Linked DNA regions of Homo sapiens. Changing the gene in region 2 together with the main gene of any one other region gives a genetic interaction. Each region holds a gene or a part of one and is shown on either strand. Other genes may lie near its edges. The genes, in order: NUP85 and YTHDC1.

Region 1 (3,611 bases), on a different chromosome or scaffold from region 2:
GTGGGTGCCGCTAGTGTTGGCTTCCCAGGGACTGGGTGGTTGAGGTGGGCCTGAGACTGCTGCTCTGATCTCTGGGCCGGGCCCTGCAGGTTCCTCAGGGATTACTGTGAGCGAGGCTGCTTTTCTGATTTGGATCTCATTGACAACCTGGGGCCAGCCATGATGCTCAGTGACCGACTGACATTCCTGGGTGAGTCTCTGGGTTTTGTGCCCTGTGCTTTGGGCACAAGTGGGTAGTTGGGGAGGTTGGAGGGATCACGTCAGACTTCTCCCAGCGCTTCCTTCATGTATTCCCATTGCATCAGTGGTCCCAGAAACATCCTCCGTCATGTCCAGGATCATGAGTTTGGCTGTCACATCTCCTTAGTGCCTCCATGTTTGTTTGTTTGTTTGTTTGTTTTTCTTTCTTTCTCTCTTTCTTTCTCTTTCTCTTTCTCTTTCTTTCTTTCTTCTTTTCTTTTATTTTTTCTTTTTTTTTTTTTTTGAGACAGAATCTTACTCGCTCTGTGGCCCAGGCTGCCAGGCTCACTGCAACCTCCACCTCCTGACTTCAAGCAATTCTCGTGCCTCAGCCTCCCAAGTAGCTGGGATTACAGGCACGCGGAACCACACCTGGCTAATTTTTGTATTTTATTTATTTATTTTTTGGGGACAGAGTCTCACTCTGTCACCCGGGCTGGAGTGCAGTGGCGTGATCTCGGCTCACTGCAACCCCCGCCTCCCGGGTCCAAGCAATTCTCCTGCCTCAGCCTCCCAAGTAGCTGGGACTACAGGCGCACGCCACCACACCCAGCTAATTTTTTGTATTTTTAGTAGAGATGGGGTTTCACCGTGTTAGCCAGGATGGTCTTGATCTCCTGACCTTGTGATCCGCCTGCCTCGGCCTCCCAAAGTGCTGGGATTACAGGCGTGAGCCACTGCGCCCCGCCTAATTTTTGTATTTTTAGTAGAGATGGGGTTTCACCATGTTGGTCAGGCTGGTCTGGAACTCCTGACCTCAAGTGATCCGCCCGCCTCGGCCTCCCAAAGTGCTGGGATTACAGGTGTGAGCTACTGTGCCTGGCCAGTGCCTCCATGTTTCTTCTTTTTTTTTTTTTTTTTGAGACGGAGTCTCACTCTGTCGCCCACGCTGGAGTGCAGTGGTACAATCTTGGCTCACTGCAACCTCCACCTCCCGGGTTCAAGCCATTCTTCCTCCTCAGCCTCCTGAGTAGCTGGGACTACAGGTGCATGCCACCATACCCGGCTAATTTTTGTATTTTTAGTAGAAATGGGGTTTCACCATGTTGGCCAGGTTGGTCTCAAACTCCTGACCTCAGGTGATCCACCTGACTCGGCCTCCCAAAGTGCTGGGGTTACAGGCATAGGCATGAGCCACCACGCCTGGCCTAGTCAATCTCTTTTAATCCATGACTCTTGTTATGTATTTTGACTCTGATGTTTCCCCAGATTTGGCTCTTCGGAGTTCTTCCAAGTCTGTTTTGAATGCTCTTGGTCTGCATCTCATTGGGACCTATGAGTTTGGAGACAGAAAAAAATCTCCTGCTTTGTGGAGTGGCTGGTCTGAGGTTTTTCTTCTCCTGTTTAGGGCCAGGGTGACTTTTGTAGGTGTCACTTGGGCAATTTGGGGGAATATGCAGGTTACTCAGTGCTCTTGTTTCGCCATAGGAAAGTATCGCGAGTTCCACCGTATGTACGGGGAGAAGCGTTTTGCCGACGCAGCTTCTCTCCTTCTGTCCTTGATGACGTCTCGGATTGCCCCTCGGTCTTTCTGGATGACTCTGCTGACAGACGCCTTGCCCCTTTTGGAACAGAAACAGGTGAAGGTTGCAGCAGCAGTGGTTTTCTTTGCTTGTCAGTCCCTGCTAGAGCTTAGTTGTATAGCTGTTGCCGATGTGCGTGTTTCCTCCTTTGTCGTTCTGCCTGTGCGCGTGTATTCCCCTTAGCGCCCTCTCTGGGATTCCAGACTCACACAGGAAACAAACACTGCTTGATTTGAAATGAGGTATTCGTATACAAAGCACACTATTGCGAAGGGTATGAAAGGAAGAACGTCCGAACATGGGCCCCTGCCCCAACCAATGCAGGCCAGGGCTGGGGGCAGCCAAGCAAGGCAGGCTCTCTTCCCTAGGTGATTTTCTCAGCAGAACAGACTTATGAGTTGATGCGGTGTCTGGAGGACTTGACGTCAAGAAGACCTGTGCATGGAGAATCTGATACCGAGCAGCTCCAGGTCATTTTCACTTTTGGGTTGATGGTTCCACATGGAGGTGGGAAAAGGCTCCCTCTATCTCAGGCTTCCCCTTCCCTCCAGAAACACTGGCTCCTATGGACACATGTGCCTCTGTTCCCCTTAACCTGTGTAATTCACACACCACCTTCTTTTAGGAGAAAATCAGGGATTCTAGTGTTCTCATCTCTACATTTTGTTCTTTGCTGTTCATCATTTCCAGTATGGCCCTTTGGTATTGCTTTCTTTTACATCGATAATTTGCTGGAAGCTACTATGAATGTTAAGTGCCCTCTACCTTTGGATTAGCTAGACCCTTCGGGAGTGTGAAAGGGCTCCTTCCTGCTCTTAGCTCATGCTGGCGCTCTCTGCTTTGCAGGATGATGACATAGAGACCACCAAGGTGGAAATGCTGAGACTTTCTCTGGCACGAAATCTTGCTCGGGCAATTATAAGAGAAGGCTCACTGGAAGGTTCCTGAGAACTGCTTCAATGTGGTATCTTTGTATGGCAATGTATATAGATTTTTTTAAAAGAATAAATGTTGTTTTGCAAATGTAGGTTCTTAGAGTCCACCCAGGGAATTTTTTATCTGTCTAGTCTGAACCTGAGGTGGTAAGAGATTAAAAAATGCTTGTTTTATGTTCTTTTTTTTTTGAGACGGAGTCTTGCACTGTTGCCTGGCCTGGAGTGCAATGGCACGATCTCAGCTCACTGCAACCTCCGCCTCCAGGGTTCACGTGATTCTCCTGCCTCAGCCTCCCAAGTAGCTGGGATTATAAGTGCACACCATACCCAGCTAATTTTTTTGTATTTTTAGTAGAGATGGGGTTTCACTGTGTTGGCCAGACTGATCTCAAACTCCTGACCTTGTGATCTGCCCGCCTTGGCCTCTCACAGTGCTGGGATTACAGGCGTGAACCACCACACCCGGCCTTGTTTTATGTTCTGATACGCAACTGTCTTCCTGTGCCTCCTTAGATAAGAAATCACCCCCCAGGTCGGGTGCAGTGGCTCACGTCCTGTAATCCCAGCACTTTGGGAGGATCCCTCAACCCCAGGAGTTTGAGACCAACCTGGGCAACATAGGGAGACTCCATCTCTGTTTAAAAAAAAAAAAAAAAAAAACCCCAAAGTTGTGGTGACTGCAGTGTCTTGGAAGTCTGAACAAGAACGCTTGGTGGTATACTTGTGCTTCTGAAATCTTGCCTCACCTCTTCTGGAACACTTAACATTTTGGTTATTTAGTTCCCTTAAAATATAAGCGTACAGGAACCCGCACTTTTAACAAAAACCTTGGGCAGTTCTATCATAGGCTGTCCTCATGTATATCTAGAATTCATAGGTGGTACCTTTTCCTCCATCAGGGTGAATGGCGTCT
Region 2 (3,821 bases):
ATTGAGCTTTAATAGAGATAAGACAAAATTTCTACAGTCTTGTCACATAAAATTCTCATTCAAGACAAATTATTCTTCCTGGCGCACCCACACACACAAAAAAAACTTCTCAATGTGTACGAGTGTTTTGCTTTTTGGGTTGTTTGGATTTTTTTAAAAGTATGTATATTTGAACAGTTTCCCACTCAGAAAACTAGTCACTGAATCATCATCTTCCAAGAAAAAAAAAGTGAAAATTCCACTTAAGCAGTAACAGAACAGGATTAAAATAATAAGAAAAAGCTTAGTTTTCTCTAGAATTATTACACTGAACATGCCAAAAATCAGTGCTAATGGACATCAACAAGTTCACACTAAACTACAGCCTCCACACGCTTTCTAAAGCAGATTACATTAGAATCAAGTCAGATATGATCACAAAATGAGAATACCTGCATATGACTCTGATGCAGAGCTTCCACTTCTATCAAAAACAATTGGAGATATGCCTCTAGCTCTCTTCCTTTCCTTCTTTTTCTCATCTAAAAAGAACAAGAGTTTTTTTTTTAAATCACAATACAGAAACGAAGAGAAGTAATCAAACAAGAATGTATCATTACATGTCTAGTTTTTGCATAGCCCTTCTATTAGTCTGTGCTCCTCTCTCCTGATCCCTCAATTTCCTCAGAATGTTTTATTTTAAAAATACTGTTTAAAAAGTACGGGCATCTTGTTTCTTTCATCAGTTTCAATCAAATAAAAACACACGAAATAACTACAAAGTCAGGGCCTTAATTGCCATATATAGGTGGCCTTGAATACAGTTTTCCAAGCGGGGGGGGAAATTTGCAAAGCAAAAACAATTTCTTTCAAAACTGTGTCCTTTCTACACACCAGGTAACACTGTCTTAAGTCCTTATTTTTTTAAACTCCACTACCATTCTTCAGCACAATTACAATTCTGATTCTATCTTAAGAGATCTGATGAACCCCTGAACCCAAAGCTTTACAACTGGAAAAATATATATACCATAATTAGTGATTCCCTTCTGGTTGCCATTGCTTGTTTTTGTGTCTTCTATTTCATTCTCCTTAGCCATTTCCTCCCTGGATTACTGCTCTTATTTTCAAATTCAATTTAAAATTTATCCCTACAATTTTAATGGTAGCCTGTGTATTTCTGTAAGAGAGCTGAAAATCTTCAGTAAATAGAAAAGGTTTGGATTACCTGCCATGTAAGAACCAGTCCCAAGCTTAATTTGGAACTTTGTAAGCATATACATGAGGACTTGAAATGGAATTCAGCTCTCCTATCTGTTTATTTTTATCTTAGTTTTACCATGATAAGCTCCTTTTACTTTTCAGCTTAGAGATAAGGGAATAGGAAGAAAAAAATGCATATACTTATTTTTATATAAACAATGGAAAGCTGAAAAATAATAATCAGTGATCATGTATACAATAACCTACTATATAATGACAGCTATTTAAAAAGCTTTAACTACTTATCTCCTTTAATTCTCATAACAAGTTCACAAGATATTCTCATTACAGATGAAGAAACCTTGAATTAGACAGGCAGTTAGGCAACTAGACTAGGGTCCCACAGTTCCTGGATGGCAGAACCTAGACTCAAGGGCAGGTCCTCTGGCTTGAGCAAGTAGAAAGGATGTTTTATACTATTTTTGAAAGGTGATTACAGGTTTAACTAGTTTTGGGGGCTTTTTTCATTATTTCTTTCAAAAGTTCTGACATGTTTCTTCTAATTTTTCCCCCATGGATATTTCTTTCAGTAGTCTAAGCATTATGAATGCATCTGACTGAGTGTAATTTATCTCTTGTTGCTGTTAAAAAAGAATTATTTCATGGTCCAAAGTACTAAAAAGGGCCTGGTGCAGTTGCTCGTGCCTGTAATCCCAGCACTTTGGGAGGTCGAGGCAGGCGGATCACTTGACCTCAGGAGTTCGAGACCAGCCTGGGCAACATAGCAAGACCCTCTTTATATAAAGACAAAAACAATAATTAAAAAGTTACTAAAAAGATCTGAGATAATGCAGGGAAAATAACAGAAGCAGAAGATCCTACTCAATTGTTTTTATATAATGCTAAACCTAGCATTAGCATGAGAAATCTCCAAGGAATTTTCATCATTTTTGTATGAATAACTCCCAATGCTCTTAAGTTTATGGCCCTCTCCCCCAACTATTACTCTCAGGTCAAAAGAACAATGAAAATCATCTAATAAATAAACTGTTATCAATCAGTCTGTTGCTTTTATAAAGTTACCAAAAATTCTGAGAATAAGGTAAAATGAACTGGAATCTAGAAAATTCATGACAGAGAAACTCAACTGTGATCACTTTTATTTAAAAACTGACGTCTCTTAATCAAGAAGTTCCAAAATCACCCCATTACTCTTTCATAAACTATTGTATAAAAAAAAATTTCCTGCATATTAATATAGTACCTAAAGCATGTTCCACATAAGGGATTTTCCTTTATAAGGAAAATAAAACTTTCAGGTATCTCTTTTAGAATAAACCTAGTCTAGTAACAGAGTTTTGATATCAAGATTTATTATAAAACTACAGTTACCATTTAATTTGAAATGTCTTCTCCACAAAAACAAAGTGTGTCAATCAAGTTACCTTACTATGGTATCATCTAGGAGCCTGTTACAAATGCAATTTCTGGTCCTACCCATTTAAGTAAGTTCCCTTTGTTTAATGTAAACAATACAAACATTAAAGTCTAAGAAATAACAGAGATACCAAAAAGAAGATTCCTACAACAAAACGTTCCCTACCCAAGGGAGTGGTTTCATACATTCTCCACAATAAATGAACATTCAACACATACTGCTAATGAAATATTTATTATCTTAAATTATAAAAAATATATCCTATCAGTTTGTAAAAGGCATGATGGAAGCATAAAGATTTCATATGTTTTTACAACAAATCCAACTACTCATCTATTCTGTTTAACTCTACCTCCCTTGAAAAGCCTATCTTAACTCCCAAACCTAGAATTCTAGTGAACAAAAGGTTGAAAGCACTTCAGTTGCCAATCACTAGAAAATAACTGGCCATCTGCTCTACCTATACTGTATGTAGTATAGATATATACTATCCATATAGTATAAATATATAGTATAAAATATATAGTATAGATATATACTATCTGTATATAGTATAGGTAGAGCAGATGGCCAGTTATCTTCTAGTGATTGGCAACTGAAGTACTTTTCTATACTATATATACTATATATATAAAACAATGTACTATTATAAATGATCAAATTCTATAATAAACTGTAAATGTATTTCAAAAAAATAGGAATTTTCTTATGTTTAGTACATTTTGCTTATGTAGCAATCTGGTAGCATCTTTACATAAGACAGTCATGAGATTATAATCATCATATAGTGCTCTGTAAGTACCCTGACCTCTCCTTGCTGTACCCTCCCCCAAGAAAAGTTCCCCTAAGCCTAGTGCCTCCAACTACGTAACAGTCATACATTTTTGTCTCATAGGTATAGAGAGGCAGGATATATATAGCATTGAAGAAATGACTGAAGATGGTTCTTACCTGATTTTTCCACAAGAATTTTATTTATAGTCTTCATCTCCATCTTATACCTTACACCCCAGCCCTCTTGTCGACCCTGTCTCAGCCAGTCAACTGACAGACACAAAATTAGAAGAAAAGTCTGTGCTCCCAGAGATAAAAAAGAAATAATCTGTTTTGATTCTGAAGCCATATGATGGAAATCTAGGGGTATTTTACCAAGGAAATACTGTAATACCCAGTGGACAGGTTTCCTATGAATATACTTCAA

What was found.
Region 1: changes in YTHDC1 (region 2) and NUP85 together harm fitness more than expected from each alone (negative genetic interaction), as found in Homo sapiens cells (one large-scale study listed by BioGRID).

Annotation. Positions count from the first base shown.
Region 1 is NC_000017.11:75,232,969-75,236,579, forward strand, and holds the end of NUP85 (nuclear pore complex protein Nup85), read left to right. Parts: intron 1-89; coding exon 90-190; intron 191-1,668; coding exon 1,669-1,820; intron 1,821-2,131; coding exon 2,132-2,233; exon of another isoform or gene 2,234-2,234; intron 2,235-2,609; coding exon 2,610-2,711; 3' UTR 2,712-2,790; downstream 2,791-3,611. UniProt on the Homo sapiens protein: Essential component of the nuclear pore complex (NPC) that seems to be required for NPC assembly and maintenance. As part of the NPC Nup107-160 subcomplex plays a role in RNA export and in tethering NUP96/Nup98 and NUP153 to the nucleus.
Region 2 is NC_000004.12:68,332,877-68,336,697, forward strand, and holds part of YTHDC1 (YTH domain-containing protein 1), read right to left. Parts: intron 522-3,821; coding exon 432-521; intron 1-431. UniProt on the Homo sapiens protein: Regulator of alternative splicing that specifically recognizes and binds N6-methyladenosine (m6A)-containing RNAs.